Homo sapiens: one gene and its partners. The protein of the gene in region 1 purifies or fractionates together with the protein of each later gene. This does not show direct contact. Each region holds a gene or a part of one and is shown in the gene's direction. Other genes may lie near its edges.

Region 1 (3,171 bases):
CAGCCATCTTGAAAGAATAGAGCAGCCAGTGGGTATACTGGATTGTGAGCTAAGAGGCCTGGGACTTTCCCCCTGTTGCTGCCAGCCAGGTTGATGACCCTGGGCAAGTCTTTTTCCTTACCAGGTCTCAGTTTCCTCAGCTGTAAAATGAGAGGTTGATCTGGATCAGGGATAGTAAATGGGCCTTTGTTCAGTTACTGACTGTTGTATAACAAACCACCCCCAAATTTAGTAGCCTTAATAAACATTTATTAGCTCCTGAGTGAGTGGCTTGGCAGTTTGGGCTGTGTTCAGTGTGGTGGTTCTTATCTCATCTGGGCCCTCGTGTGGCTGAAGTGAGCTGGCAGATCAGCTGGGGACTGGCTGGTCTCAGATGGCCTCGCCCGCCTGTCAGGTGGTTGGCTGGGCAACTGGGCCACACGTTCCAGCATCTAGCAGGCTGACCCAGGATTCTAGACATCATGGCTGAGTTCCAAAAACCGCAAGAGAAGACAAGCCCAGTATGCGAGTGCTCTTGAGGATATTGCTATGACGTATCTTTTGGCCAAAGTAAGTCACATGGCTAAGCCCAAATTCTTCTTAACAGGAGGAGCTTCAAAATATGGCCATATTTAAAAAATCTACCTCAGGACTCATTTCACTTGCCAACTCAGAACTTTTAGTAGCAGCTGCCTGGAGTGCCTTTTGAGGATCTGCAGCAATTTTCAGACTGTTTGGAAATACTGACATGATAGTTTGGCAGTTTCTCTTATGAGCATGGAATTCAAGTGTGGGCACGTGAGCGTCAGGTATTTGCCATCCCTGGCCAGGTTGACCCGTAAGGTCATAACCTGCCCCATAGGATGTTATATGCAGTAGGCCTGTCTGACAAGACCACAGAAATAGAGAAGGCAAAGCAGAGCAAAAGATTCTGAGCCAGGCATCCTTGGTTTTCATCCCAACCAGATCATTGATTGATTGAGGTTTTAGGCAAATCAAAATCCCTCCACCAGTAGCCAGATTCTTCATAATAAACTTCCTCCATAACAGTAAACCATTTCCTGAACACCTGCTGTTAAAAAGCACATTTTACATTTACTTAATCTCCACAACCACCCTCAGTAGGTGTAGTAAGGACTTCTGGTTACAAGTTACAGAAACTGAATTCAGTCCTGCTTAGTGGGAGGAAGTTTATTGGCTCACAAATTGTAAAGTCCAGGGATCTTCAGACATGGGGACTTGGGTTCAAAAGCTGCCATCGAGAATCCGGTTAGCCAGGCATGGTGACACGTGCCTGTAGTCCCCGCTACTTGGGGGACTACAGTGGGAGATCATTTGCACCTAGGAGGTTAATGCTGCGGTGAGCCATGATCCTGCCGCTGCACTCCAGCCTGGGTGACAAAGCGAGACCCCAACTCAAGGGGAAAAAATCTGGTTTTCGGGCAGGTTCCAAGAAGTGGTAGAGCATGGCCATAGGGCCTGTGAGAATAGAGGGACAGAGGGGAGAATCCCCAAAAGGAGAGCAAGGCTTGGCTAACAAAAACAGGCATCCACTGTGTGGTTATGTCTATTCTATAGATTTTGTAGATGAGGTTTAAAAGCATGGCCCCAAGTAAAGGTGGCATCTCTATCCTATCCTCGCCTTTATCTAAACTCTGTGACCGATCAATAGCATATGATGGTGGTGGTGCTCTGCCAGTCTCCCAGTCCCAGACTGAAGCACTAGCAGCTTCCACTTATTATCTCTTGGGACTCTAGCTCTTGGGACCCAACCACCATGCTGTGAAGCAGCCCAGGCCACACAGAGAGGCCACGTGTACATGTTCAGCTGACAGCAGTATCAAATGTCAGACATGAGAGAGGAAGGCTTCAAGATGACTCCAGCCCAGCCACCGTCTGAGAACAAAGTAAGAACTGCCTCACTGATGCCATTCAAAGCCCAGCACCATGAGAGATAATAAAACGTTGTTTGAAGATGCTAACTTTTGGAGTGATTTGTTGTATCAGTAGATAACCAGGACACAGGCCCACAGAGGTTCAGTAGCTTGCTGTGCTTCTCAGGGGGCTAGGTTAAGAGTATAGGTTTTGTTGCTGGGCGCGGTGGCTCACGCCTGTAATCCCAACACTTTGGGAGGCCAAGGCGGGCAGATCACGAGGTCAGGAGACCGAGACCATCCTGGCTAACACGGCGAAACCCCGTCTCTACTAAAAATACAAAAAAATTAGCCGGGTGTGGTGGCGGGCGCTTGTAGTCCCAGCTACTTGGGAGGCTGAGGCAGGAGAATGGTGTGAAGCTGGGAGGTGGAGCTTGCAGTGAGCCAAGATCGCGCCACTGCACTCCAGCCTGGGCGACAGAGCAAGACTCCGTCTCTTGCTGACTCTTACCCATATGCCTGCATCTGTCTACCCTCTTTTCTATGTACTTGCTCCCTGGATGACTTCATCCGTGGCTTCAGACTCCACTCATGGCTCCATAATCTTCACCTCTAACTCATTTTCCTCCCAAGAACACCAGGGGAGTAGGTACAGATGCCCATCTAATAACTGTACTTCGATGTCCACAAGGACCTGTCCAGCCCCCACTTGCCCGTGTCAACCTCCTCCACTGCTCCATTAATTTTTCCCTCTGTGTTAATTTTTCCCTGGTTATCTTAGGTCCTTTCTGTGTCTTAATTGGACTTTTGCAGTAACCTCTAACTAGGCTCCCTGCTGCTCTTCCTACTCGGCTATCCGTTTTATCACCATCCCATTGGGTAAGATCCACACCCCTTAGCATGACATCCTAAGATGTCCAAGATATGACTGACCCCTTCTCAACACCTCCCCTCCCGTAATCTGCCTCCTCCATGTCTCAAGCCACGTGGAATAAATTGTGGAAAGACCTGTGCTGTCTGGCTTGTGCCTTTACACATGCTGTTATCTCTACCTCAAATGCTGTCTTCCCCCACTGGCTAACCCTTGTTATCCTTTATAACAGCTCAGAAGTTGCCTGCTCAAAGACACTTTCTTGGCCTGAATTAGAACTGCCCTCTCACGTGCTACTTCCATCACAGATCTTACCATCTATTATATTATTACATACACACACACACACACACACACACATAAAATGTATTTTGAGATCAGGGTCTCACCCAGGTTGGAATGCAGTGGCACAATCTCTCGGCTCACTGCAACCTCTGTCTCCCAGGC
Region 2 (4,434 bases), on another chromosome or scaffold:
TGAGACAAGGTCTCACTCTGTTGCCCAGGCTGGAGTACAGTGGCATGATTATGGCTTACTAACCTCCGCCTCCTGGCCTGAGACTCCCAAGTAGCTTGGATTACAAGTGTGCACCACTATGCCCGGCTGATTTTTGTATTTTTAGTAGAGACAGGGTTTCGTCATGTTGGCCAGGCTGGTCTCGAACTCCTGACCTCAGGTGATCCACCTGCCTTGGCCTCCCAAACTGCTGGGATTACAGGCATGAGCCACTGTACCTGACCAAGTTTTGTTGTTGTTTTTTTTAAATCTATTCCACCAATATATATCTTTCTTTTTTTTTTTTTTTTTTTTTTGAGATGGAGTCTTGCTCTGTTGCCAAGGCTGGAGTGCAGTGGCGCGATCTTGGCTCACTGCAAGCTCCGCCTCCCGGGCTCACACCATTCTCCTGCCTCAGCCTCCCGAGTAGCTGGGACTACAGGTGCCCACCACCATGCCCGGCTAATTTTTTGTATTTTTAGTAGAGATGGGGTTTCACCATGTTAGCCAGGATGGTCTCGATCTCCTGACTTCGTGATCCGCCCGCCTCGGCCTCCCAAAGTGCTGGGATAACAGGTGTATATCTTTCTTTTTTTTTTAACCTTCTTGACCCTTATCTTTCATATCTTTTAAGTGGAACATTTTAGTCCATTTATGTTTAAGGTTAATATTGATATGTGAGGTTTTGTTAGGTATATTACTATTAAATAAGTTTATGGGAAGGTTTTTTTTTGTTTTTTGTTTCTTTTTGAGATGGAGTCTTGCTCTGTCTCCCAGGCTGGAGTGCAGTGGTGCGATCTTGGCCTACTGCAAACTCCACCTCCTGGGTTCAAGCGATTCTCCTGCCTCAGCCTCCTGAGTAGCCGGGATTACAGGTGTGTGCCACCACGCCCAGCTAATTTTTGTGTTTTTAGTAGAGACGGGGTTTCGCCATGTTGGCCAGGCTGGTCTCAAACTCGTAACCTCAAGTGATCCACCCACCTCAGCCTCCCAAAGTGCTGGGATGACAGACGTGAGCCACCATGCCTGGTCATGTTTTCTGTTTTTTTTTAAGACAGGGTCTCACTCTGTTGCCCAGGCAGGAGTGCAGTGTCACAGTCATGACTCACTGCAGCCTCAACCTCCTGGGCTCCAGCAATCCTCCTCCTTCCTCAGCCTCTAGAGTAGCTGGGACCAAAGGTGTACGCCACCACACCTAGCTTATTTATTTTTTGTAGGGACAGGGTCTGGATCTGTTGCTTAGGCTGGTCTCTAACTCCTGTCCTTAAGCGATCCTTCCTCCTGGCTTTCCTGAAGTGTTGGGATTACAGGAGAGAGCCACTGCCCCTGGCCTCATTTACATTTTAAAAGACCCCTCTGGCTACCTTGTGGAGAACTGAGTGTTCCCTGGGGTCAGAGTGAAAGCCTGGTGACTAGCAAGGGGGCCGGAGCGGGGCCGGGGCCGTGGCTGGGCTGCAGGGCCGCAGTGGGAATGGAGATGGAGAGGAGGTGGCAGGATTTGGGACTGTCCTTGAGGTTACTCATTCACCATTGTTCCCAGCACAGACTGCAGCGCCTGGCACATTGCAGGTGTGGATTGAGTGCCTGGAAAAGCTGCAAGCTGGTTTGGGCCTCTGTGTAGGGGGAATGGGCTGAGCTCAGCAGTTGGTGTCAGGCTCCTGACACGTGCCATCTGGTTTGGTGAAAGTCTATGCCGTCAAGACATGCTGGTTTGGGGTGAGCCACACTGGTTTGGAGCTTCCGATCTGTCTTCATTTGGTTCCCTTTTGCTCTGTAGTATCTGTGCAGTGGCAGAGCAGTAGAACCCAGGGTTAGGGATGGAGGTAGGTGCAGGAGGGGTGGCCTTAGAGGAGAGGTGGATCCAGGGGTGCCCCCTCCCAGTTCTCTGTTCAGGTCTGTATTGACCCTCGGGATTGGAGGCCCTCTTCTCATCCATCGTGGTGGCCTCCATACAGGTGAATCTCAGCGATCCCAAACAGAAGTATGAGCCATCAGACCAGAGCCATGTGGACTGCGTGTGTCCCATCCAAAGGGCACAGCCTCTGATCTGCTGTACCCGATTTTCTTTTTTCTTTTTAAGGTGGAGTCTTGCTGTGTCGCCCAGGCTGGAGTGCAGTAGCACAATCTTGGCTCACTGCAACCTCCACCTCCCAGGTTCAAGCGATTCTCCTGCCTCAGCCTCCCGAGTAGCTGGGACTACAGGCTCCTACCACACCTGGCTAATTTTTGTATCTTTAATAGAGACAGGGTTTTACCTATTTGCCAGGCTGGTCTCGAACTCGTGACCTTACGATCCGCCCGCCTCGGCCTCCCGAAGTGTTGCGATTACAGGCGTGAGCCACCGCGCCTGGCCCACTGTACCTGATTTTCTGTGAAGTCAGAGGCCTGATTTTCAGGTGTGGGCAAGTTGGACATTTTTTAACGTGCTGCATGGGCAACAGAACATATCTACGAGCCCCATTCTGTTCTTGGGTCCCCACTGTTTCCCTCCTGATCCAGTTGAACCCCAGGTGACAGATCTTCCACAACAGATGGGTGATGAGAAAAGGAGGGATACTTGGGGGCTTTGCCATCACTGGGGACCCATCATCCCCAGTGATGCCAAATGAGGCCGATTGTGGCCCGGTGGGCATGGCCTGGGCAATCAGGGCTCAAGACCATCAAGCTACGCACGATGGGCCTAGGAGAAGATACTGATGCTGTTTTTCTTTCTCTCTGCCCAGTCTGAAGAAAGGAAAAGAATAGATGAATTGATTGAAAGTGGGAAGGAAGAAGGAATGAAGGTAAGGGGCTGCTGTGCTTGCTGCATCATAGCTAAAGCTGGAAGAGCTCACCTTCCCTGGTCCCGTGGCTGAGAGTGGCCACCATGTGGCTTTCACCCTCTAATGGCCATGGTGACCAGGCAGACTCTATTAGGTTGTCAAAGAGCCAAATACCAAAAGTTGTTAAGGAAATGTCTTATGAAGGAAACATAAATGGGCTTTGTATATAAATGTTATCCAGGGGAAGCTTTTCTTAGAAATTGTGGTTAAACAATTCAGTGGCTTTTTGTACATTCACAATGCAATGCAACCATTATCCCTGTCTAATTTCAGAATTTTTTCATCCTCCCAAATGGAAACCCTTACCCATTACTTACCACTGCCCACCATCCCCACCTCTCCCCTGCCCAGCCCCTGGCAGCCACTCAGCTGCTTTCTGTCTCAGTGGAGTTGCTCTTCTGGGCACTTCATATAAATCGGATTATACAATATGTAGCTGATGCCCAGGGAAACTTTTAAAAGGAGAAACTAATACATTTTTAAACTGTTTTCCTAGATAATGACAATGCCCAAGAAATGTGCTTTTCTCTTACTGTATTTCAACCACACTCAGTTTGGGCGAGAGGAGAAGTACTCTCTACAGTGGGGTTCAGATGGGCCTAGACTAGGGCTCCGGGTTCAGAAAGCTTCCACTTCCACCCACCACCTAGGGGGATTCCGGCTTAAGTCCTGGGCCCCTCCAGCAACCCCATTCAACTCCATGTAGAATAGAGTGAGGAGACACAGGAGAGAAATCGTGGAATGAGGTAGAGACCCAGAACACTGGGCCTGCTGTTTGCCTAGGAAGGCATAGCGCATAGCCCCTAGACAGAGAAACCAGGTGTGTGGATTTGAGCTGTGTCACTGTCTAGCTGTGTGGCCTCAGACACGTGGTTGTGCCTCTTTAAGCCTCAGTTTCCTCATCTACAAAATGGGGCAGTCTCCACCTAGCAGATCTCTCACGAGCTCTGATGTAACTGCTTTGCAGATGAGCACCAAGGAACCACGTTTGTGGAGTGAGGGAACGTTCTAGAGCTGGCCTGTAGTGACGGTTGCACAGCTGTATACACTTCATAAAACCCATCAGCCTGTACATGTAAAGTGAGTGAATTTTATGACATGGCTCAGTACAGCTGTTAAAGACTGGGGTAAGCCCCAGCTCCCCGGAGACCTGCTGTGCACAGTGGCATCCATTGCTATTATGAACCAACACCCTCTCTTATCACCTGACAGATTGACCTCATCGATGGCAAAGGCAGGGGTGTGATTGCCACCAAGCAGTTCTCCCGGGGTGACTTTGTGGTGGAATACCACGGGGACCTCATCGAGATCACCGACGCCAAGAAACGGGAGGCTCTGTACGCACAGGACCCTTCCACGGGCTGCTACATGTACTATTTTCAGTATCTGAGCAAAACCTACTGGTGAGTCCACTGTTGCTTAGAGTGGCTTTTCTGTCCTCTGGGCAGTGAGGAGAGGCCAAAGGGCCAGGAACTCCTGATTCTGTTTGGTGGCCAGTCTTTTGGTTTTGTTGTTGTTGACTTTTTTTTTTTTATTTTTTGAGATGGAGTCTTGCTCTGTTGCCCAGGCTGGAGTGCAGTGGTGTGATCTCGGC
Region 3 (4,434 bases), on another chromosome or scaffold:
GATCTGTAGAGGAGGCAAGGAGCCTGTGAGAGACCAGGAACTCCTGGATGGCAAGGAGGGTGAGTGAGAGGTCCTCTTCCACACCTAGTGGTTAAGAGCGCAAATCTGGAACTAGACAGAGCTGTGTGGCCTCTCTGTTCAGTTTCTTCTCTCTATCATGTGGGTGGCGACTATACGAAACTCGCAGGGCTGTAGGGCTGCAGTGGAATGACTGTCAGCTGTCATGGTTTGCATTTGCCATAGGGCACGGCCCAGGAAGGTGCGCCAGAAGTGTCTTTTGGGTCGATGGTGGCCAGCTGGTGAGTGGCACGGGCTGAGAGGGATGGGGCTGTGTCTGCCCAGGCCCATCTGCAGTGCCCAGTGTGCTTCCAAATACCCAGAAGGGCTCGTTTTGTCACAGTGGAGATTGTGGACCGGGAATGCCAGCCGTGGCCCTGGCCTGGCCCTGCCTCTGTGTGATCCCGGGAGAGTCTCTTGCCCTTTCCGGGTGGCGGATTCCTCAGCTGAAAAATAGGGATTGGGGCCAGGGGATCCCTGGCTCTGCTTCTGAGTCCTGCAGAGTCAAAGGACACTCCAAACAGGGGCTGGCCCTGCCCCTGCACCGAGTGTCTCTGGCCGCAGCCTGGGCATTCGGAATCAGCCCCTTGTTGCTGTTCGTTTCTGCTTCATGTGCCAGGCCATTGCCGCCCCCCTGCTCATGCCCTGGGCCTGACCTCAGGCCAGGTGGGACCTCCCTCCTCCTCCTGAGCCTGAGAGCTCTGCGTAGGCCCGGGGGGGAAGCCCTTGGTTTCTCCCTCATGGCTCCTGTTTGAGCAGTTGGGGCTGCCAGAGGTGTGACCGACCACAGGCTTTTAAATGTGGACAAGGTTAAAATTAATAATAACCTTGCCAGGCATTTGTAGGAGTCCTTTGCAGAGCACCTGCATGGACATTAGTCACTAACATGTATGGCATACCTAACATGTACTGGACTGTCCGCTCAGTACTTTGCCCACTTTACAGATGAGAAAACTGAGGCACAGAAAGGTTACCAGGACTTACGTAAAGTCATACAAAAGACAGAGGTGGGGCCTGAAGCCTGGCCCATTCAACCCCCAAACATCCCTTTGTTAACTGGCCAGACCTCTGTTGCACTTTGATAGCCTAGACATCTGGGTAGATGGGCACAGAGAGGTTAGCTTGCCCAGGCTGCACGCCTAGTTGGGTCTCAGTGGGAGGAGAAGGGGTGAGAGGAAGGTCCCTGGACCCTGGCTGGAGCCCGGCCCCCCGCGTGCCTCTTCCTTCCAGGTGGCCGACCAGATGACGCTGCTGCAGAACTGCTGGAGCGAGCTGCTGGTGTTCGACCACATCTACCGCCAGGTCCAGCACGGCAAGGAGGGCAGCATCCTGCTGGTCACCGGGCAGGAGGTGACCAGTCCCTCGGCCCCGCCCCTGGGCCCCGCCCTGGCCCCGCTGTGCACTTCCAGGATTCAGGGCCCCGGAGAGGAGGACCCAGGCCTCTCGGGGCTGGCTCTGGGCACCCTAATTATCAGCCCTTTCCCCACGTTCATGGAACACCCACTGGCCCAAACCCTCTGTGAGCAGCCCTGGCCCAGGCTTGAGAGGCGCCGGCCCCTGGGAGCCCTGCTCTTGGGGAGCAGCTCAGGGGGTGTGGGCATGGTGAGGAGAGGCTCATGGAGGAGGAGGTGATGGTGGCCCTGGGTCTGGAAATAACACACTGGAGTTGGCTGGGGAATGAGGGATGAGGGGGGCAGTCCCCACGTCTACCGCAGGCTCAGAGAGGGTGGAAGTGTGGAGCCCCCGGGCCCTGCTGGTGCCGGTGTGGGGGTGGCATGAGGTGAGAGATGAGGGAGGCTAGGGGGTTGCTAGTGCTGGCTTAGCAGGCAAACCTTGCAGGCCCTAAATCTCGAATGAATGAATGAATGAATGAATGGGCAAAGGGCTCCAGAGAGCTCAGAGTCGGAATTTGGGCCCCCTTAGAGCAGGGAATGAGGATCTGGGGAGTAGAAAGTCCAGATGCAGCAGGGGTCCGGGGAGAGCTTTAGGAGGAGGAGGGACATGGCCAGGTGGTATCTGAGGAGGCAGGCGGAGGGGTCAGGATGGGAGGTGGGGGGCCAGGGTGGGGACACGGGGGCACAGCCACGGAGGAAGACTCACCTGGAGAGATGGGCTGTAGGGAAAGAGAGGGAGGGGGGGAGGCAGAGAAGGGGGTTGATGGCCAGGGTCCAGCCTGCTGGCAGGAGTGCCACTCTCAGGTGGGGACACAGGAAGGGCCGTGGGGTCGGTGGGTGCTGTGGGGTGGGGAAGACAGACTCTGCTCCCAGCTCCAGCCCTCCCAGGCCCCCACTGCTCATCTCCAGCTCTCTCCTCGGTGTCACAGGCCATCGGGGCAGGAGGACGGGACGGGCAGCACTGGTCCCAGGGGGGTGTCTTTGGGGCTCCCTGTGAGCGCAGGTGCCTGCAGTCTGCATGAAGTGTGGGTGTCCGCAGGCTGGCTGAGTCTCTGTGGCCATGGGAATGCCTGTTTGTGTGTGTGTGTGTGTGTGCCTGCCTGTGTTTTATTGTGCAAAATCTCCACACACATCAGTGTGTGGGTGTCACTGTCTTCCCATCAACCCGTAAATGTGATCACATACATGGGTGTATGTGTTGCCGTGAGTGTGAGCGTACAAGGGCGGGTGTGGCCGTGTGCACACGTGTGTGCCTTCACTTCACAGAGTGGGCGACCCCATGACTGTGCTCGTGTGTGTGTGTGTGTGACTCTGAGCTGAGCTGTGACCCAGCGTGTAGGTGTGAACATGGGGGCTCTGGGAAGCCATGTGGATGTGTCTGTGTGTCCCCACACAGGCCTGCCCTCCCCAACCCCTCCCCTCCCAGCATGTAGAGGGGCCCCCTGAGCTGCTGGTGCTGCTGGGCCTGGTGCTGGGGTTTGTGTGTGAAGGAGGGGTGGACGCGGGCAGAACGTGGGTGCCTCAGCTCCGGGCTTGGCGGGTTGAGGAGAGCTCGGAAGGGTGGGCCCGGCAGCGTCCCCGGGGCTGTGCAGATGTTACCCGTGCCTGGCTCGGCACCAAGGCTGGGCCCTCCTGACGCCAGCCCATCTGACCTGCACCTCCAATCCATGCCCTCAGCCCTGCATCCCCCATCAGAGAGCCACCTGCCCGGACCCACGTCCTCTGACTGTCCCCCGCCCCGTGCCCTCTGCCCCCAGGTGGAGCTGACCACAGTGGCCACCCAGGCGGGCTCGCTGCTGCACAGCCTGGTGTTGCGGGCGCAGGAGCTGGTGCTGCAGCTGCTTGCGCTGCAGCTGGACCGGCAGGAGTTTGTCTGCCTCAAGTTCATCATCCTCTTCAGCCTGGGTGAGTGCAGCTCCAGTGACAGAGAGGTGGAGACAGCCAGAGGCGGGTGGGTGGGAGGGTGGGTGAGGCTGGAGAGGTAGCCCTGCTGTGGCCAGAGTGGCCACGAAGGAGCCTCGGGGAGAAAGGACCCCTCCCTTACTCATTCAGTGAACAAAGGTCTGAGGGCCCCCGGCCAGGGCCTGGCTCTTAAATGGGGGCTGCTCCCGCTCTGGTGGCCCATGTGACTTTAGGATTTTTATTCCAGGCTCCCATCCTGGGGTCCCTGTTTTCTCTAATCCCTGGATCTAGGGGGCCCCAATTTTGACTGTACCTCCTGGGGGCCTGGACCCCTTTGCTCATGCACACGTGCATCCATTCATTGACTCTACAAACAGGCACCGAGAAATTGCACTGGAGAAGGCACTGGGAATACCGCTGTGAGCAAAAACCCCCCAAGCCCAGCCCTTGTGGTACTGACCTTCTCTAGGGGAGACAGATCATGAGCATAATATGATTAGTAAGACGTAGGTTCCTAACACGATTAGGCAGGCATAGCCAGGAAGGTTGTGACCAGTGCTAAGGAGGAAAAGAAAGCAGAGGAGAGGCAGAGAGCAGGCCTGGCCCAGCCCAGCCCGGCCACCCACCTCACTCCCCAAGCACTTGGGGGGTCTCCTTCCCGTTGCCCTCCTGACCCCAACCCTGCCTGGGCCACTCCAGTCTGCACCCTCACTCCCTGGAAAGCCATCACAAATGCCCTCCCCATGCCCAGAGATGCTGAGGACATAGCTGTCCCTTGCCAATCGTGAAAAGACCTACAGCCTGGGTGGTTAGGGCTGAGACAGAGAGATGGGTGTGGCTTAGGGAACCCTGGGTGGGGAGCAGAGCTCTTTCTGGAAGGCTTCCTGGAAGAGGGGCATCTGAGCAGGGTTTTGGAGGATGAGTAGGAGTTTTCTGGGGGAATGAATTATTTTGCAGTGATGCAGGTGGGATGGGATAGAGATGAGTGAGTGCTTCATCACCTGGAGAGGGGGCAGGATTAAGGTATTGTCTTGGTGGCTGGCATTATAGTCACAGTCTGCGAGGGGCATGCCTGCCAGAG
Region 4 (4,434 bases), on another chromosome or scaffold:
CAGCTGAGCGTGCAGCCCTGTTCACTGTGATGGCATTTAGAACAGTGGCGTGGGCACAGAGCGTTGGCCCTACACGTCCCCAGAGATGGGGCAGCTGTTGACATGCACAGATGCAGCCCAGGCAGCAGCGTGGAAAAGCACAGACATTGTTACATGGAAGGGGGATGAACTGTCACAGCGAACGTGCCCTGTGCTCTGGGTTTGGTCTTCACAGCTAAGAGGGTTGGGCTTAGTCCCACTTTACAGGTGAGAGAACTGAGGATCAAATAAGAAATCCAGTTAAAGTGCACAGGCTAACTCAGGCCCAGGTCCCAGGCCAAGCTGTGCATGAATAAAGGTAGATTTGGGTGAAACTTCCAGGAAATTGTAACAGAATTGCAGTTGTTTCTGTCCACATCCTTTGACCAGGGCTATGAGCCTGTTTAGTAAGTGTTGCCATTCATGCCTGTGTGGCACCCATCCCCTCCCGTGTGTGGTCACAGCACTCTGGGTGCCAAGGGCAGCTCGGCGGTCAAGAGAGCGCACTGGGGCCACCATGCCTGGCCTTACCACCAAGGTCCACCCCCAGCTGGCTGTGTGCCCCCAGGCAAGGTCCTTAGCCTTTCTGTGCTCTTGCTTTATCATTTGTAAGTTAGAACTGATGATAAAACTTCTTCCTAGGATCAGTGTGAGGATTAACAAAGTTAGGGCATGGAGGCAGCTGGCGCCATGTCTGCTCAGCACTCTTGACACGTTAGACCATGGTGGTGATGGCGGTTTCCTCAGGATCCTCTCAGGCTTGTCCTGCCATGTACCCAGCCACCCACCCACCCATCCATGCATCCCCCCACCTGTCCACGCATCCCCCCACCTGTCCACGCATCCACCCACCCATCCATCTACCCATCTACGGATTCATCCATCCACCCACCCACACATCCACCTACCCACCACCCACCATCCATGCATCCATCCACCCACCCACCCACCCCCCCATCCAACAATAGGTGGACCCTATCCTGTTTCAGACAAAGTGAAAAAGACATGCACTCAGCCTTTCGAGGGGCTGCCAGCTCTGTGTGGGCCTCAGCTTTCCCATCTGTCCCAGGGTGACGGCCTCATCCTCACAGGCTCATGCTGTCAGCCAGTCAGTCCGTGTGCCGGGGAGTTGGCCCCTAGCAGTGCTGCCTTCTTAATTCACAGATAGACTGGCACTTTGTTCTGTAGTGACTTTGATGGGACAGCTGTGAATAGCGGCCATTTAGCGAATTGCGTTTGAGCTTGTCTGTCAAGGGCTATGGGTGAAAGCCGAACTGGCTGAGTTGAGAGCGTGTCAGGGTGAAGGCTTTCTGATGTGCCGGGAAGACATGTGAAGACCTTCAGCGCTAGTGGGTGTGTGGCCCTGACGGCCTCTCCCTGCACTGGCTTTCATGGTCCCTGGGATGGGCTGCCCTTCATGGGAACCACGATGTGTTCACGCAGGTGTCTTGTCTGTTCTAGCAATGGCGCTTGCTTCCATATCTGGCAGCTGTCTACGCCTTAGACCATTTCTCCAAGTCGCTCTTCCTGGACCTGGTGGAGCTCCAGCGAGGACTTGCATCGGGAGACCGCAGCGCCAGACAGGTGAGGTGGTGTCTGCTTCCTCAGCAGCATCGTTTAAATCTCACACGGTTGGAGCAGCATAGATTCAACCTTCATTTCAAAGCAAAATCAGTCCTTTGATTTGCGAGGACAGAGCATTCCTCCAGTTGTTCCCACCCACTCGGAGCTCTTGGCCTCTGCCGCGATTGAACGGGCTGGGCACGCGTCCACACCCCTGCCTCTCAAGGATGTGCTGACACGACTCCCGGTTCCAGTCTGTGAGTTCAGCTGTTGGTCTCCTTTTGAGAACATGACGGTTTTGCAAAATCCACGTTACCCGCCCCTCAGTGGATTTCATGGTTCTGAGCCTTTTGTAAACAGCTGCACAAAGGTCTGAATCCCACTGACTGGATTTGAGTTGACAGTCAGAGGATTTGTGCCAGAAACGAGCGTGCAAATCCCGAGATCAGCCTCGGCATAAAGAGACATCGGGAACGGATTTCTTTGTAGATGATTATGAACTGATTTTCCATTGTCCCTCCTGCTGCCTCCTGAGCAAGAGTGAAATGTGAATCAAAAGAAATAACCGTGTTTGAAAGCAGAGGAGAAACGCCACAGATTGCTGTTATGTACAACATCAGAAAAAGCCTGTATCTAATTAGCATATCTTGAAATATTATCGGTGTCCACATTCACGGCAGATGATGGCGAAGGGATGACCTGCAGGATTGATGGCAGAGCAAACCCCAGGCCTGGAGGCCTGAGGAGGGAGCGCTTCTGACCACTAAAGGGGTTAAGCCTGTGTTTTCCCTGGAGCGTGAGTCAGTGGAGCTTTTGCCAGCTGACACTTGCATTGTTCTCCTGTGAATAATGTTGTAAAGGGTGACCAGGCTGATTCTTTCTGAAACTCAGTGGTTTAACCCAGGCAGAGGAGGGCCTCAGCTCAGCCCCTTATGTGAAGTTGAAAACACTCATAAAATGGGTCACTGGACTTAGCATGCGTGTGTGTGTGTGTGTGTGTGTGCGTGTGTGTGTGTGTGTGTGTGCGTGTGTGTGTCTTCCTCTTAATTGTTTTTCCTTTTTAATTGTCTTTCTTTTTTAAAATTAAAAATTCTTCTTTTACTCTGAATCAGTCTCTTAAGTTTTTGTTTGTTTGTTTGTTTGTTTGTTTTTGAGACGGAGTCTCGCTCTGTTGCCCAGGCTGGAGTGCAGTGGTGCGATCTTGGCTCACTGCAATTTCTGCCTCCTGGGTTCAAGCAATTCTCTTGCCTCAGCCTCCCAGACTAGCTGGGACTACAGGTGCCCGCCACCACACCTGGCTAATTTTTTTTATTTTTCAGTAGAGACAGGGTGTCACCATGTTGCCCAGGCTGTTCTCAGACTCCTGAGCTCAACTGATCTGCCCGCCTCGGCCTCTCAAAGTGCTGGCATTATAGGCGTGAGCCACTGTGCCTGGCCCAGCCTCTTAAGTTTTCATCATTAGATATCAAGCAGAAGCAAAGGAGTCTTCTTTCTTTTTTTTTTCCCCTTAAAAAAAAGCCTGCAGCACCTGCTATTCCCAGGCGGTCTCCCATCCAAATACTAACCACGCCCGACCCTGCTTAGCTTCACGAGATCAGGCTCATTCAGGGTAGTTTGGCCATGGACAGCAAAGGAGTCTCAATAAAACATGTTAGGCCTGAGGGAGGCACGGTGAGCCCCCACACAGAGCAGACCATCAGTTACCGAGGCGCTTGCAGCCTTCTGGGAATGGACTGGTCCCGGCCCTTCCCTGTCCTGGGAGCGAGCACTGTCTGCGGTGCTGAGTCTGGTTCCCTGGCCTTTCTTCATGGTTTCGCTGCAAACAATTGCAACCTTCCATGGTGTGTCATTCACTTTGACGTTTGTGAACTTTATATAAAGTGGGCCATGACGCACATTCTTCTGCAGTTTGCTTCTGGGACCCGTGTTAGGGCCCTGAGAGCTATTTGCTGTGTAGAGCTGTGTTTTCATTGTTGTGAAATGGTATGAGCGTACCACAGTGTATCCATACTTGGATAAAGACCCTTTTTTATTTCTAATTACAATTAGGTTTCCTCTTCTGTCATTTTCGGGATGTCTTGTATTAGACTAGAGGTGATATGGTGGTTTGATGCTATTGCTGACTTATGACTTTTTGGTGTCTAAAGTCTCTTTTCACCTGTTCTTGTTGGATTCCCTCACCCAAAGGCAGAGCTTGGACGTGAGATCCACGCCCTGGCATCGGCCAGCAAGCCCCTGGCCTCGTGGACCACCCAGCAAGGAATTCAGGAATGCCGGGAGGCGTGTGGAGGACACGGCTATCTGGCCAGTAGGTTTTGGAGAAGCGCATGGTGGTTTCCTGTCCTTAGCCCTGCTGTTTGACTCTAGACCAGGGGTCGGCAGACTGCGGCCTGAGGACCAAATCCAGCCTGCCACCTGTTTTTGCAAATAAAGTTTTATTGGAACACAGCCAGCCACCCCCGTTCATTTGCACATTTCCTGCAGCTGTTTTCGCACTGCAAGGGCAGAGATGAGTAATCGCAGCTGTGACAGAGACCATGTGGCTTACAGAGCTGAAAATATTTACTCTCTGGTCCATTGCAGAACAAGTTTGCCAACCCCTGCCCTAGATAGATCCCACTGCTTTCAGATGCCTGATGCTTCTTGGCCAAAATATAGGCAGAGAGCAGCTGATCTGCTCATTTGAATTTTAACTATTTGGTTAACAGCTTGGTAGTAAACTAGCACCATGTTTTGTTTGAATAGAAAATTCTTACACTTAGATAAAGAGTTAGTTATATCGGCATTGATGATGACTGAGGCAGCTGTTATATGGTTAAGAGCGGAGGCCACCAGCTTGCCTGGGATTGAGTC
Region 5 (4,434 bases), on another chromosome or scaffold:
GTCTGTTGACCATGCTTGGCTCTCAGGAGGCCGGACCAAGGACAGCGTTTGCACTCCTGGTCTCACCACGCCCAGTGTTGGCTTAGGGAACCTCTTGTGAATGCAGCCATGGACATTTGCTTTTCAGAGAACGAGAGTGAAGGTTTGGGGAATGTTTCTGTCCTTACCTATATTGGCAGTAGGCAGTGTGAGAGGTGGTGGTTCTTGGGTTGTGTTCCCCTTGCCTGGTGTTTTCCTCTGATTTCATACTGCTATAAAGAACTGCCTGAGACTGGATAATTTATGAAGGAAAGAGGTTTAATTGACTCACAGTTCAGCATGGCTGGGGAGGCCTCAGGAAACTTAGCATCATGGCAGAAGTTGAAGGGGAAGCAAGGCACCTTCTTAACAAGGCAGCGGTAAGAAGTGTCGAGTGAAGGGGGAAGAGCCCCTTATACAACCATCAGATCTTGTGAGAACTCATTCACTATCATTAGAAGAACATGGGAGAAACTGCCCCTATGATCCAATTACCTCCACCTAGTCTCTCTGCCTAGACACGTGGGGATTATGGGGATTATAATTCAAGATGAGATTTGGGTGGGGATGTGCAGCCTAACCATATCAACTGGTGTTCAGATGAAGAGGTTGTAGAAGCATATCTACTGCTTAAAGAGGGAAATTGGAGTCAGCAAGCTCTGGGCTTGGTTTTCTTCCACATTTAAAACAAACCCAAGGAAGAGATGGTGCAGCCGTGCAAGCCCCTGGTGGATCTGTTGTGTCTCACACAGGTTTTCTATTTTCTCTGTGTCTTCAGCAGTGTGCATCTTACTTAAACCGCCTCAGGGCTCCTTTCATCCCCAGGCCCAGTCCTCAGCTTGACACATCATAGGCCCTCAGCACCTAAGTGTTCTGAGAGGGAGTGCAGCTCCTAGAGGTCCATGTCCCATGTCCTCCTGCTTCCTGCATATCATTTGGGCCCCAGTCGGTCCTTGTTACTGCGGGTCTTGTGCTGTCTCTGGAACAGCCCTTTATGGGCACCATCTACTCACTCATTCACTTCTGTTGGCTGACGTGGCCCCTGAGCTCTCTTCCTGTGCTTAGTTAGGCCGCGCGAGGCCAGAGGTTGAGTGGGGAGGCTTCCAGCCCCTGCCTTCTGTCCCAGCTTCAGGCTGGCCTGGTTCCATGTCCTGCTGTCCTGCTTCAGCCATTCCTCTATGTGGCTTTCAGTCCTCTCACAGATTTCTTCATTTTTGCAAGGTAGCGTGGGAATGATGACTAGCACATGGCAGCACACATCAGGCAGGTTTATGAAATTATGTTTTAAGAGAACACAGAATCACAAATTACTCATCCTGTATATGTGTTAAAATGTGTAACCTAATTGCTGAACAATGAAAAGCAATTCCTTTTATATTTAAAAACTCACTAGTTAGCTGAGAACCTAATGGTAGTTGCAATGTACTTTAAATAGAAAAGTCCTCTTGCTTGACAAAGGTAAAGGAAACTGTTCGGTCCGACTTTGTTCCTTTCATGCCTGCCAGGGCTTCTGGTTTCACGGAGACCTCAGGCTAGGAGCAGCCCTGAGCAGGGAGACTGAGTTACAGAGAATCCCCACCAAGTTGCAGGCAGAGGGACAGCCGAGGCCCTCAGGAAGTACACGAGAGCAGAACCACTATGGCAAGTTCACTGAGAAATCTGGAAAGTTAGAATCCCAGCCCGAGTCCATCAAATGGAGCATCATAAAATTAAGTTTTCCTTACTGTGAAATGGCAATTTGTAATGATTTCTGAGAAGTGGGACCCATGGTGGTGTCGATGTCTGAGCCAGGTGAGGGTGAGATCCCTGGCGCCATGGGCTGGCCCCCAGGATGCCCTGGAAAACGCATTCTGTTCACAGCTGTGTGATTCTTTTCTTTCTGTGTTGGTGAAGCAGCCAGACCCGGTCCGTTTGGAATGCCTGGGATGGTGCCGCCGCATGTTCCTCCTCAGATGCTCAACATTCCGCAGACCTCTCTGCAAGCAAAGCCCGTGGTAAGGCCTTCCCTGCGTTGGGTCGGGTGGCGGGTCTCAGACAGGGTGCGTGCATTGAATTTCAACGAATGCTAAAATAAGTTCCTAACCTCTTGAATTGATACGTGAAATAGATGCCAGTGTTTGTTGAAATAAAAATGAGCCAGGAAACGTCAGCCTGGGCCTGAGTCGGGTCCTGCTGGCCACGTGTGCGTGACCTGTGCCCTTCGCTTCAGGCCCCACAGGTGCCCAGCCCAGGGGGCGCCCCGGGCCAGGGTCCATACCCGTACAGCCTCTCTGAGCCAGCACCTCTCACTTTGGACACGAGCGGGAAGAATCTGACGGAGCAGAACAGCTACAGCAACATTCCTCACGAAGGGAAGCACACGCCGCTGTATGAGCGGTCCTCGCCCATCAACCCGGCCCAGAGCGGCAGCCCCAACCACGTGGATTCCGCCTACTTCCCTGGCTCTTCTACATCGTCATCTTCCGACAACGACGAGGGCAGCGGAGGGGCGACAAAGTGAGTGGTGCGTGGGTCGCTGGGTGCTTCCTGGCGGGTAGTGACCTGGGGAAGCTGCCTTCTGGCCTGCCAGCCCAGCTGGTGTTTTGCTCAGAGATGTAGTTTATTGCAGGTGGGTGATGGTCAGTCTGTACTCAGATGGGGGCTCCTTGGACAGAGAGGAGAGAGGAAGAGTAGGTATGTTCTTGAAGTTTCCATGATTTAAAATCTGCACTATCCCAGCCCCATGGCCTGGAGCCACAGGAAACTTTCTGGGGAGGAATTTGACAAGAACTGGTTTGTGTGATGACCAAAACATGGGGGCATTTGTCCGGTGTGGTGCCACTCACACCCGTCACAGCAACCCCCTGCCGACCCCCGAAACATTAATCTTCTGGCTCCTGGATCAAGGGAGCTCTGAATTTCCTCTCCTTCTCCTAAACTCAGCAGGTTACAGGACACTTTGGAAATAACACTGTTTGCCCAAGCAAAACCCTAGAAAGCTGCCTAGACCCAGGCTGGAATTGTTTCCTTAGAGGAGTATTTTAAACACTGTGTGTCCCTGAATAAATGGGTTCACAAATACATAGTTGGTTAAAATTTGATCGAGGAAATCTTTAATTTGCACTCCTCCCTTTCTTTAAATTGTCTTATGTTTAAAACAAAAAAAACAGGGAAAGAATATTTCTTTTCTTTAAGTCAGTGTCTCCTTTTCCTTGGTGTGAACTCTACTTTACAGCGCAGATAACCAGGGCTGGTTGATGTTACATCTGTTTCTGATGTAGGAAATGTAAGAGACATAGGTGTCAGCTTCCATGCCAGTTCTTACCTTGTGTGTCACCTGAAGCAGGTGATCTTTTCCTCTCTGTCCTCTGTCCATCTGTGAAATGGGAATAAATGTCTGTTGACCCAGGGCAGAGCTTACTGAAGGACTCTCTGCCATCCAGGGATGCATACCCTGTTTATAGCAGAGAAGTATAACATTAATAAATGTTGATTTGTTGTATGTGCAGAGAAGTATAAAATTAATAAATGTTTATTTGCTGTATATGCAATGCCAAGACTCTAAAATGAAGTAAAGAGTTGCAATTGAATATTCAAATTTTTAAATTAACCTCTAGCAAGATAATATATTGAGTACCCATTGAATCAGAATCTCTGGTTGGGGCCCCCAAATTTGCATTTTAAATAAGCACCTCAGTCAGTCTTTAGCACACTGAAGTTTGAGAACAACTGCTTGATGGTCTTGGAAGCCCTTATGTGCCAGATTTCTAAGGCATGTGCATTTTGTTGTAAAACGTGACTCATGTCAGCAAGGTCCAAGTGTCTGTACAATACAGTTTTTGTCTTAGTAAGAAATGTTCTTTCTAAACTGTGAAACATAGGTAAGAAGTAAGACAAAAAGCAAAAGAAGTAAGCTTTATGACCCCAACAAGAGTTCCATGCTAGTGATGGAGATGTGGAAACCAGGTCAAGGTGCTGACTTGGGGACGTGGGTGGTGACTGGGGCATGTTTCAGTTGAGGTGCTTGTTCCTCCGGTGGGGAGGGATTGAGAAGAATGTGAGTTGCCCATCTAATTTGGCAAGTTGTCTTTGTTAGGATGAGCTGAACTTGGAGTGAGTAGGACTGCCTGAGCATGTCCTGTCTTTTCTGGGTATGCACTTCCTACCTGTCTGTGAAGGTTCTGGTCAGCTTTTTGGAGCTCTGGGCATCTGACCTCTCCAAGTGCTTATTGTCTTTATTCCTGGTATGGCATCTTTACTGTTTTCTGGAGATGCATCTTGTTTCTGCCACTGGAATTTGACCTGCTCGGGGTCTTGTGTTTTGCCATCCTTGTGGTATGAAGTGCCATGAGGAATGCAGGGTACACCCTATAATAAGGAAGAGACAGACATGTTAGACTTGAGATGAATGAAGGCAGAGGAGACAAGGGTGCTTGT
Region 6 (4,401 bases), on another chromosome or scaffold:
ACCCCTTGATTATCTGTTGCTCGCGCTGTCTCCGTCTCTGTGAGTGGGGGAGGGTGGTTTCCGAATGAAAACTCAAGAACCTGTTTGTAGATGAAGCAGGGGAGAATGGGTGCCAGGCAGACAGTAATGTAGGTTCTTACTCAGCTGCTCTGGCCGGCTCCTACTCCTGGGCTCTGGAGCTGTTTCTCTCTTGGTCAGGTCTAGATGTGGGTTTTTGTTTTTGTTTTTCTTTGAGATGGAGTCTTGCTCTGTCACCTGGTCTGGAGTGCAATGGTGCCATCTCGGCTCACTGCAGCCTCCGCCTCCAGGGTTCAAGTGATTCTCCTACCTCAGCCTCCCGAGTAGCTGGGATGACAGGCACCCGCCACCACACCCAGCTAATTTTTGTATTTTTAGTAGAGACGGCATTTCACCACGTTGGCCAGGCTGGTCTTGACTCCTGACCTCAGGTGATCTGCCAGCCTCGGCCTCCCAAAGTGCAGGGATTACAGGTGTGAGCCACCGTGCCCGGCCTTGGTTGGTTGGTTTTTGAGACAGGGTCTCGCTTTGTCACCCAAGCTGGCATGCAGTGGCACAGTCACAGCTCACTGTAGCCTCAGCCTTGATCTCTCGGGCTCAAGGGATCCTCCTACGTCAGCATCCTGTGTAGCTAGGACTACAGGCACGCGCCACCATGCCCAGCTCATTTCTTAATTTTTTGTAGAGTTGGGGTCTCACTATGTTGCCCAGGCTGGTCTCAAATTCCTGAGCTCAAGTGATTCTCCCACCTCAGCCTCCCAAAGTGCTGGGATTATAGGCATGAGCCACTGCACCCAGCCTAGATGTGTTTTCTTACAGTCTAGTAGCCCATAGCCAGACGGTGACGTTGGCCACCCTTACACAGCTGTGTACCGTGCCAGATAAAGCTGTATAAACCCCATTAAACATCCTGTGTGAGCCGCAGAGGCGGGGCTGCAGTTTAGTCGGTCACTTGTCCGTAGCTTGTGCCTTGCGCTGCAGGACTCGGACGGTGAGGACCCCCTGGTCTACAGTGGCCCTTGCTCTGCCCTGGTCTGTGCTCTGCCCTTTGCCCCGCTTTGCCCATCCGAGATGGGTGTTGGGGAGCAGCGTCTCTCTAGAGACCCACATCCTGTGGGGCCAGGCAAGCCTGAGAAGTCCCTCCAGGGCAGCCTGTGTCTCTTCTGGCCACAGAGTTCCCTAACAGCTCAGTAGCTCGTCAGACAGTGTCACTGATGTTGCTCCTGGAGTCGGCTAGCCATTGTGCCCTGCCCTTCCCAGGACTCAGTTTACCTGCCCCTACTTTGATAGTCACCTGGCTTGGGAGGGCAGCTTCTCCAAGGGTGGTGCCAAGGGACTGTCCCTTGTGCCTGCAGAAGGCCTGTTCTTCTCTGGTCCCACGTGGCTCTCTGGCTAGAGGTTTCCTGTCTGCTTTTGCAAGGATTCTGCCTGAGGCCAGGGCTGCAGCTGCTGCCCCGAGCCTGCGGCTGCGGGATCTCCTAGCTTGCTGGCCACAGGCGGGAAGAGCCTTGCCTCGGAGGCTCTCTGCCCTGTCCCTGTTGCGTCCTCCCCTTTTCATCCCATGGCCATCCCCCTTGGAACAGGCACAGCTCCCCTGGATTGAGTCTTTGCTCTGTACCCAGCCTGTGCCATGTCCTCCATGTGTGTCGCTGTAGTACTGCCCATAGGTGCTGTCCCCGTTTTACAAATGAGCCACAAAGGTGGCCAGGCACGGTGGCTCATGCCTGTAATTCCAACACTTCGCAAGGCCGAGGCGGGTGAATCGCTTGAGCCCAGGAGTTCAAGATCAGCTTGGGCAACATAGTGAGACCTAGTCGCCACAAAAAGTACAAGAATTAGCCAGGCGTGGGGGTGGCACATCTAGTCCCAGCTATTCAGGAGGCTGAGGTGGGAAGATCGCTTTAGCCCAGGAGACCAGGGGTACAGTGAGCAGTGATTGTGCCACTGCACTCCAGCCTGCATGACAATGAGAGACCCTGTCTCAAAAACAAAGAAACAAAAAAGGAGCCACAAAAAGGTTTGGCTGAGCATCCCAGGGGTCAGAGACAGGGAGTGGCAGACCAGGCTTCTGATACAAATGGGCTCAAGGTCAGTCCCCACCCCCACTCCCCAGTGCCCCTCACCCCTAGCCACCCCCTCCATCCCCTGGGTGACCAGAGCAGTACTGTAAAAACCTAAACTGAGTCCTCCCCGCTCCCGCGGTGAAAAGCCCTGTGCAGTTTTCTACAGCCCCGCCTCTAGAGTCTGATTCAAAACCAGCTGCAATTTCTTGGCCAATGCCTGTCTTCTCATCAGACTGAACTTTGTGAGGGCAGGCGACACACATGTCCTGGTCCCGGCCAGGCCTGGAGCAGCCCAGGGTTCGGCCTGGAGGAGATGTTCAGTGACATGCAGAGGCCCAGGCCTGGCCTTTGGTCCCGGGCACCTGCAGCAGAGGGCGCATGGGACAGACCCTCAGCAGGACTTCCAGCCTGAGAGCAGCTGGACGGCCAGAGAGGTTAGGCTGGCAGCAGAGGCGAGTGGAGGTGGAGGTTCCGCAGGTACTCACTGGCCCTTGCTGTGTCTTCCCCCGCTGTCGCCACCCCACCAGTATCTGAAGAAGCTGCACACGCAGGAGCGGGCGGTGGAGGAGGTGAAGCTGGCCATCAAGCCATACTATCAGAAGAAGGACATCACCAAGGAGGAGTACAAGGACATCCTGAGGAAGGCCGTCCACAAGGTGGGCACCCGGAGAGAGGGGCAGACACAGGCCGGGGAGAGAACGAGCTGGAGGGACAGATGTGTGCAGACAGATGGACGCGGATGGGAGACGGGGAGGAGGTCAGTCTGGGAGGTGAGGAGGGTGACAGGATTTTCTCAAGGCCACCTGGGCCTGTTCCGCTGGCCCTGGGGCACCCATCGTCTAGGGGGACAGAGGGACTTTGGCCTGGTTATTGGGGAAGCTCCTCCTACCGCAGTTCCAAGCTGCGCCCAACAGTCCTGGGTGGATGGGGCCCCGGGAGCCTGGTGGTGACTCCAACTGTCCCCGGCCCCCCAGATCTGCCACAGCAAAAGTGGGGAAATCAACCCAGTGAAGGTGAGCAACCTGGTGCGGGCCTACGTCCAGCGCTACCGCTACTTCCGCAAGCACGGTCGCAAGCCAGGGGACCCCCCAGGGCCCCCACGGCCGCCCAAGGAGCCAGGGCCCCCAGACAAGGGTGGCCCGGGCCTGCCCCTGCCCCCTCTCTGAGAGCCCTGGCCAGCTCTTCGCCCCTCACCTCTTTGAAACTCTGGACGTATTTATGGCTCCACCTCCCCACCTCCCTCCCCCGTCAGTGGGATGACTGGGGGAGGGTTGCTGCAGGGAAGAGGAGAGCCCCCTGCCCTGCCCTGCCCCGTGTCCACCTCCCTTGCCCCCAAGCCTGTCCCCAGTGCCCCTCCCTTCTGTTTGTGCCCCTCTCCCCAATTTCATTAAAGATTTCATGAAACATTACCCCTGAGCCCCATGGTTCTAACCCTTTGTTTTCGGAGACAAATTTGCCAGAGGGTTGGGGAGGGACCCCCAGGAGGCTGAGGATGGGAGACAGAGACCAGACTGTGACTTGGGGCAGCTGCCTCCCCTGGGCCTCAGTTTTCTTATCTGTGTAGTGGGTGTTGTGATGATTGAACAAGACACAGGTGGAGCACTTAGCACAGTCTCTGGCTGGGAGCGAGCTGCTCACAGGGAGGCAGGGGCCGGACCCCACCTGATCAGCATCTTCCCAGCTCGGCTCCTGGGTGCCATGTGCCTGCCTTGGAATTGCTCCCAGAGCAGGATCTGTGTTCCCCATTGAGTTGGCTTCTCTTTTCAGCAGCCCCGTGAAGCTGGGGTGATCTCATCAACTGTCCTGAGAGGGAAACTGAGGCACAGAGCAGCAAGGGCCGAAGGGTGAGTCAGGGCTGCGCTGGCTTCTGCCAGTTTCATCACCCAGAACTGCGGCCCAACCAGGAGAGGTGACAGTGCCCAGGGTCACCAGGCAGGCAGGCTTTGCAGGCTCCAGGGTGGCCGCAGAGCCCCTTTACCAAGACCCCTCCAGCCCCACGTGGAGGGGAGCCTGAGGCCTGGAAGGAGAAGGACCACTTGCCCAAACTGTTCATAGGCAAGGCAGGGGGCCTGGGTTCTGGCTAGTCTTTGTGTTTCCTACTCTGTGACCTTTGCGCCTCTCCCAGCCTGTGTCTTGGTCTACAACACGGGGACAGCCATCACCCACCAGGTCCCTGGGCAGAAGTGAGGAGGTGTCAGCTGCCCCCTGCAGTGCTTGGTCTTCATGCATTGAGCACCTGAGTTGTATATAGCTGCACAGATGGGTAAACTGAGACCCTGAGCGGGAATAACAACCATATTGGGTCAGAGGGCACCCAACA
Region 7 (4,434 bases), on another chromosome or scaffold:
TACCTAGTCCAGAGCCAAGTATGAGTCCTAAAATGCACCGAAGACGTTCCAGGACATCATCAGCGTGTCATATACTTATAAATAACCCAATAAATGCCTGTGAATTAAGCCCTAAAGGAAAAGAACAGGCAATGGACTTAATTATTCAAGATACTGATGAAAACACAAATGTGCCCGAAATTATGCCAAAGTTACCAACTGATTTAGCGGGAGTTTGTTCAAGCAAGGTTTATGTGGGCAAAAATACATCTGAAGTCAAAGAAGATGTGGTTTTAGGTAAATCAAATCAGGTATGTCAATCTTCAGGAAATCATTTAGAAAATAAAGTTACTCATGGACTTGTTACTGTGGAAGGTCAGTTAACATCCGATGAGAGAGGCGCACACATAATGAACAGTACCTGTGCTGCGATGCCAAAGCTGCATGAACCATATGCCAGCAGTCAGTGTATAGCAAGTCCAAACTTTGGAACTGTGAGTGGACTCAAGCCAGCCAGTATGTTAGAGAAAAACTGCAGTTTGCAAACAGAACTGAATAAGTCTTATGATGTAAAAAACCCTTCTCCTTTATTGATGCAAAACCAGAATACGAGACAGCAGATGGACACACCTATGGTGTCCTGTGGAAATGAACAATTTTTGGATAACAGTTTTGAGAAAGTTAAACGGAGACTTGATTTAGATATTGATGGTTTGCAAAAAGAAAACTGCCCTTATGTCATAACAAGTGGAATAACTGAACAAGAAAGGCAACATTTGCCAGAAAAAAGATACCCTAAGGGATCTGGCTTCGTTAACAAGAATAAAATGTTAGGAACTAGTTCCAAAGGTAAGGAATCTTTGAAGCGTTTGATACCTTCTATGCAGATACCTTTATTTTAATACTCTTAATTGACATTTTTGGGAAAAAAGTGGTCTTTATTCATATGGGCACTTAATTTTATTTATCTTATTAGAAAGCATATTAGTCAGCTACAGTTTATTGCCATTTGATAGGCTTTCTTAAAGATTTTCTTGAGACAAGGTCTGGCTCTATCACCCCAGTTTGGAGTGAAGTGGCATGACTTCAGCTCACTACAACCTCCGCCTCCTGGGCTCAAGCCATCCTCCCACCTCATCCTCCCAAGTAGCTGGGACTACAGGCTCATGCCACCATGCCCGGCTAATTTTTGTATTTTTTGTACTGTAGAGATGGAGTTTCTGGCATGTTGCCCAAGCTGGTCTCAAACTCATGAGCTTGAGTGAGCCTCCCGTCTCAGCCTCCCAAAGCTGTGGGATTACAGGCGTGAGCCACGACACCCAGCCAGGATTTTCTTTTTTGAGACAGTCTGGCACTGTTGCCCAGGCTGGAGTGCAGTGGCACAACCTTGGCTAACTGCAACCTCCACCTCCCGGTTCAGGCAATTCTCATGCCTCAGCGTCCTGAGTAGCTGGGATTACAGGCGTGAGCCATCATGCCTGGATGGATCTTCTTATTTAAATGATGAAGCTTTCATAGTCCACTTGGTATTATTGAGAATATTAATAATTGGAGGAAACAGTTCTTTTTTTTTTTTTTTTTTTTTTTTTTTTGAGACAGTCTTGCTCTGTCGCCAGGCTGGAGTGCAGTGGCGGGTTCTCACCTCACTGCAACCTCTGCTTCCTGGGTTCAATTGATTTTCGTGCCTCAGCCTCCAGAGTAGCTGGGATTACAGGTGCTTACCACCTGGCCCAGCTAATTTTTATATTTTTAGTAGAGATGTGGTTTTGCCATGTTGGCCAGGCTGCTCTCAAGCTCCTGGCCTCAAGCGATCCACCCGCCTCAGCCTCCCAAAGTGCTGGAATTACAGGCATGAGCCACCGCACCCAGCCCCAAACAGTCTTGCCTGAAACATCACTTACAGTTTTAATTCACTGTATTGCTATGAGGTCTTTCTTTTGGACTATAGTTTCTAATGTTTATTTCAGTTTGCTTTTTCATTTGTAGTATGAGCTTCGTGTAATTGGTCCTTCAGTAAACACTTTAACATCAAATTATTAGACAAAGTATCAGAAATAAGGCTCTGAGTAGGTGGTTCAAGAACGGTTCTTTAGGCCGGCGCGGTTGCTTACGCCTGTAATCCCAGCACTTTGGGAGGCCGAGGTGGGTGGATCACTTGAGGTCAGGAGTTCGAGACCAAACTGACAAACATGGCGAAACCCCGTCTCTACTAAAAATACAAAAATTAGCTGGGCGTAGTGGTGCACATCTTTAATCCCAGCTACTTGGGAGGCTGAGGCAGGAGAATTGGATGAACCCAGGAGGCGGAGGTTGCAGTGAGCCGAGATTGCACCATTGCACTCCAGCCTGGGTGACAGAGCCAGATTCCATCTCAAAAAAAAAAAATAATAATAATAAAGGTTCTTAATTAATAAAAATTATTATTTCAGTTTTTTCTGTTGTATCCATTAACAGCAATTTATTAAAGCACGTTTTTCTCCTTCATTACCCCTTACTTTGTTGTCATTGTTGATAATTCTTTATTACTGATATAGAAGACATACAAATCAAGTAAGTTAAGCTCTTAGGGCTTATGGGAAATACAGGGTTGGGTCAGACTGCTTAAAACCTGTGCAACTTTTTTTTTTTTTAATTTTTTTTTTTTGAGACAGGGTCTTGCTCCGTCACCCAGGCTAGATTGCTGTGGTGCGATCTCAGTTCACTGTAGGCCTGGGTTCAAGCGATTCTCCTGCCTCAGCCTTCCAAGTAGCTGAGATTTACAGGCATGCGCCACCACGCCCAGCTGTTATATTTTTTGTGGAGACAGGGTTTCACCATGTTGGCCAGGCTGGTCTCGAACTCCTAGGCTCAGGTGATCAGCCCTCCTTGGCCTCCCAAAGTGCTGGGATTACAGGTTTGAGCCACCAGCCCTGGCCCATCCTGTGCAACTTTATAAGAGCTCTAATAAAAACAACCACTGTTACCTGGGGAGCCAACTTGGATCCTCCAAGTAGATAGCATAGCAAGGCAAGAGGCTGCCTCAGTGAATATCAGAAGTACATAAGACCAACAGAGTGGAAATTTCTTTTTTTTTTTTTTGAGATGGAGTTTCACTCTTGTTGCCCAGGCTGGAGTGCAATGGTGCGATCTCAGCTCACTGCAACCTCCGCCTCCCAGGTTCAAGCGATTCTCCTGCTTCAGCCTCCCAAGTAGCTGAGATTACAGGCATGCGCTTGTATTTTTTCAGTAGAGATTCGGTTTCACCATGTTGGTCATGCTGGTCTCGAACTCCTGACCTCAAGTGATCCACCTGCCTTGGCCTCCCAAAGTACTGGGATTACAGACGTGAGCCACCACACCTGGCCCATACTTGGTATTTGTACATTTCAACATGTCTTACCACATTCTATTTAGGAAGCTTGTATTGTCATAATGTTTTCTCTTAGTTAGTAACTAAATATCTGGAATTTTAACGTCCAGTCCTTTTTGAAACCTCAAGCTGAGAAAGCTTTATACCATCAAGGAAACACTTTCTTTGAAAATCAAAACAAGGCAAAACTACAAGCTACACTACCAGAGATCCTGGAGGACAAGTGTCAAAAAAACAAATGATGGTAGGATGCAGTTGAGGACCACATCTGAAAGTTAAGTAGAGTCAGGAGAATCTTGTCTGAATATATAGTCCTGGGTCTGTCATTTCAGATCAGGATGGGATCTGTTGAATGAGTGGGTAAAGGTGATGCAATACAGGTCTTACTTTATTGAGTAGCATGAAATAAAAGGAGTGTGGTTCGAAGTAGAGACCCAGCTATATCTTGATTGTATTATGTCAGATCCAGGAATACTCTCTTGTCAGAAGGATAATTTAAATTGATGGTATAAAATATCAGACATTAGACTTGTGAATTTTCTAAATTGAGGAAACATGTTTCTTTTCAGAAAGCGAGGAGTTACTAAAAAGCAAGATGTTAGCTTTTGAAGAAATGCGGAAGAGACTAGAAGAACAGCACGCCCAGCAATTATCACTACTCATAGCTGAGCAGGAAAGGGAACAAGAAAGACTGCAAAAGGTGAGGAATGTGGAGGGAGATACAACTGGTAAGTGAAATTTAGCCAAGGATACCTATGAATTTTGGTCATGTATAGAATACGTGTAATTTTTGCCTCCATATATCTTAAGGTAAGGGAGTCATTTTGATACGTGAATGGTATTTTTTGTCAAAATATGAATTTTGATATTTAGATCCTTATCTAAAAGTAATTGCATAATTTATCGAGAATATTTTATTGAATCCTTGATTTAAAGCTTAATATTTTAAAAAGGTATTTTATAAATAGGTGCTAAAGTACACATTCTGCAGGAGTTGTATCATAAAAATGACACTCATGCTGGGCGTGGTATCATGAGCCTGTAGTCCCAGCTATGCAGGAGGCTGAGGTGGGAGGATTGCTTGAGCCCAGAAATTCAAGGCTGCA

Evidence for each region.
Region 2: the proteins of RALY (region 1) and KMT5A purify together in Homo sapiens (affinity purification with mass spectrometry; one large-scale study listed by BioGRID and IntAct). This does not show direct contact.
Region 3: the proteins of RALY (region 1) and NR5A1 purify together in Homo sapiens (co-immunoprecipitation; one study listed by IntAct). This does not show direct contact.
Region 4: the proteins of RALY (region 1) and ACOX3 purify together in Homo sapiens (affinity purification with mass spectrometry; one large-scale study listed by BioGRID and IntAct). This does not show direct contact.
Region 5: the proteins of RALY (region 1) and FAM120A purify together in Homo sapiens (affinity purification with mass spectrometry; one large-scale study listed by BioGRID and IntAct). This does not show direct contact.
Region 6: the proteins of RALY (region 1) and SCAF1 purify together in Homo sapiens (affinity purification with mass spectrometry; one large-scale study listed by BioGRID and IntAct). This does not show direct contact.
Region 7: the proteins of RALY (region 1) and CCP110 purify together in Homo sapiens (co-immunoprecipitation; one large-scale study listed by IntAct). This does not show direct contact.

The regions. Positions count from the first base shown.
Region 1 is NC_000020.11:34,082,924-34,086,094, forward strand, and holds the end of RALY (RNA-binding protein Raly), read left to right. Parts: 3' UTR 1-1,961; downstream 1,962-3,171. UniProt on the Homo sapiens protein: RNA-binding protein that acts as a transcriptional cofactor for cholesterol biosynthetic genes in the liver. Binds the lipid-responsive non-coding RNA LeXis and is required for LeXis-mediated effect on cholesterogenesis.
Region 2 is NC_000012.12:123,400,832-123,405,265, forward strand, and holds part of KMT5A (N-lysine methyltransferase KMT5A), read left to right. Parts: intron 1-2,741; coding exon 2,742-2,801; intron 2,802-3,807; exon of another isoform or gene 3,808-3,920; intron 3,921-4,052; coding exon 4,053-4,243; intron 4,244-4,434. UniProt on the Homo sapiens protein: Protein-lysine N-methyltransferase that monomethylates both histones and non-histone proteins. Specifically monomethylates 'Lys-20' of histone H4 (H4K20me1).
Region 3 is NC_000009.12:124,490,003-124,494,436, reverse strand, and holds part of NR5A1 (steroidogenic factor 1), read left to right. Parts: intron 1-1,287; coding exon 1,288-1,407; intron 1,408-3,208; coding exon 3,209-3,356; intron 3,357-4,434. UniProt on the Homo sapiens protein: Transcriptional activator. Essential for sexual differentiation and formation of the primary steroidogenic tissues. Binds to the Ad4 site found in the promoter region of steroidogenic P450 genes such as CYP11A, CYP11B and CYP21B.
Region 4 is NC_000004.12:8,391,788-8,396,221, reverse strand, and holds part of ACOX3 (peroxisomal acyl-coenzyme A oxidase 3), read left to right. Parts: intron 1-1,479; coding exon 1,480-1,602; intron 1,603-3,768; coding exon 3,769-3,889; intron 3,890-4,434. UniProt on the Homo sapiens protein: Oxidizes the CoA-esters of 2-methyl-branched fatty acids.
Region 5 is NC_000009.12:93,513,756-93,518,189, forward strand, and holds part of FAM120A (constitutive coactivator of PPAR-gamma-like protein 1), read left to right. Parts: intron 1-1,911; coding exon 1,912-2,012; intron 2,013-2,227; coding exon 2,228-2,514; intron 2,515-4,434. UniProt on the Homo sapiens protein: Component of the oxidative stress-induced survival signaling. May regulate the activation of SRC family protein kinases. May act as a scaffolding protein enabling SRC family protein kinases to phosphorylate and activate PI3-kinase.
Region 6 is NC_000019.10:49,655,153-49,659,553, forward strand, and holds the end of SCAF1 (splicing factor, arginine/serine-rich 19), read left to right. Parts: intron 1-2,608; coding exon 2,609-2,737; intron 2,738-3,055; coding exon 3,056-3,247; 3' UTR 3,248-3,490; downstream 3,491-4,401.
Region 7 is NC_000016.10:19,536,760-19,541,193, forward strand, and holds part of CCP110 (centriolar coiled-coil protein of 110 kDa), read left to right. Parts: coding exon 1-828; intron 829-3,897; coding exon 3,898-4,028; intron 4,029-4,434.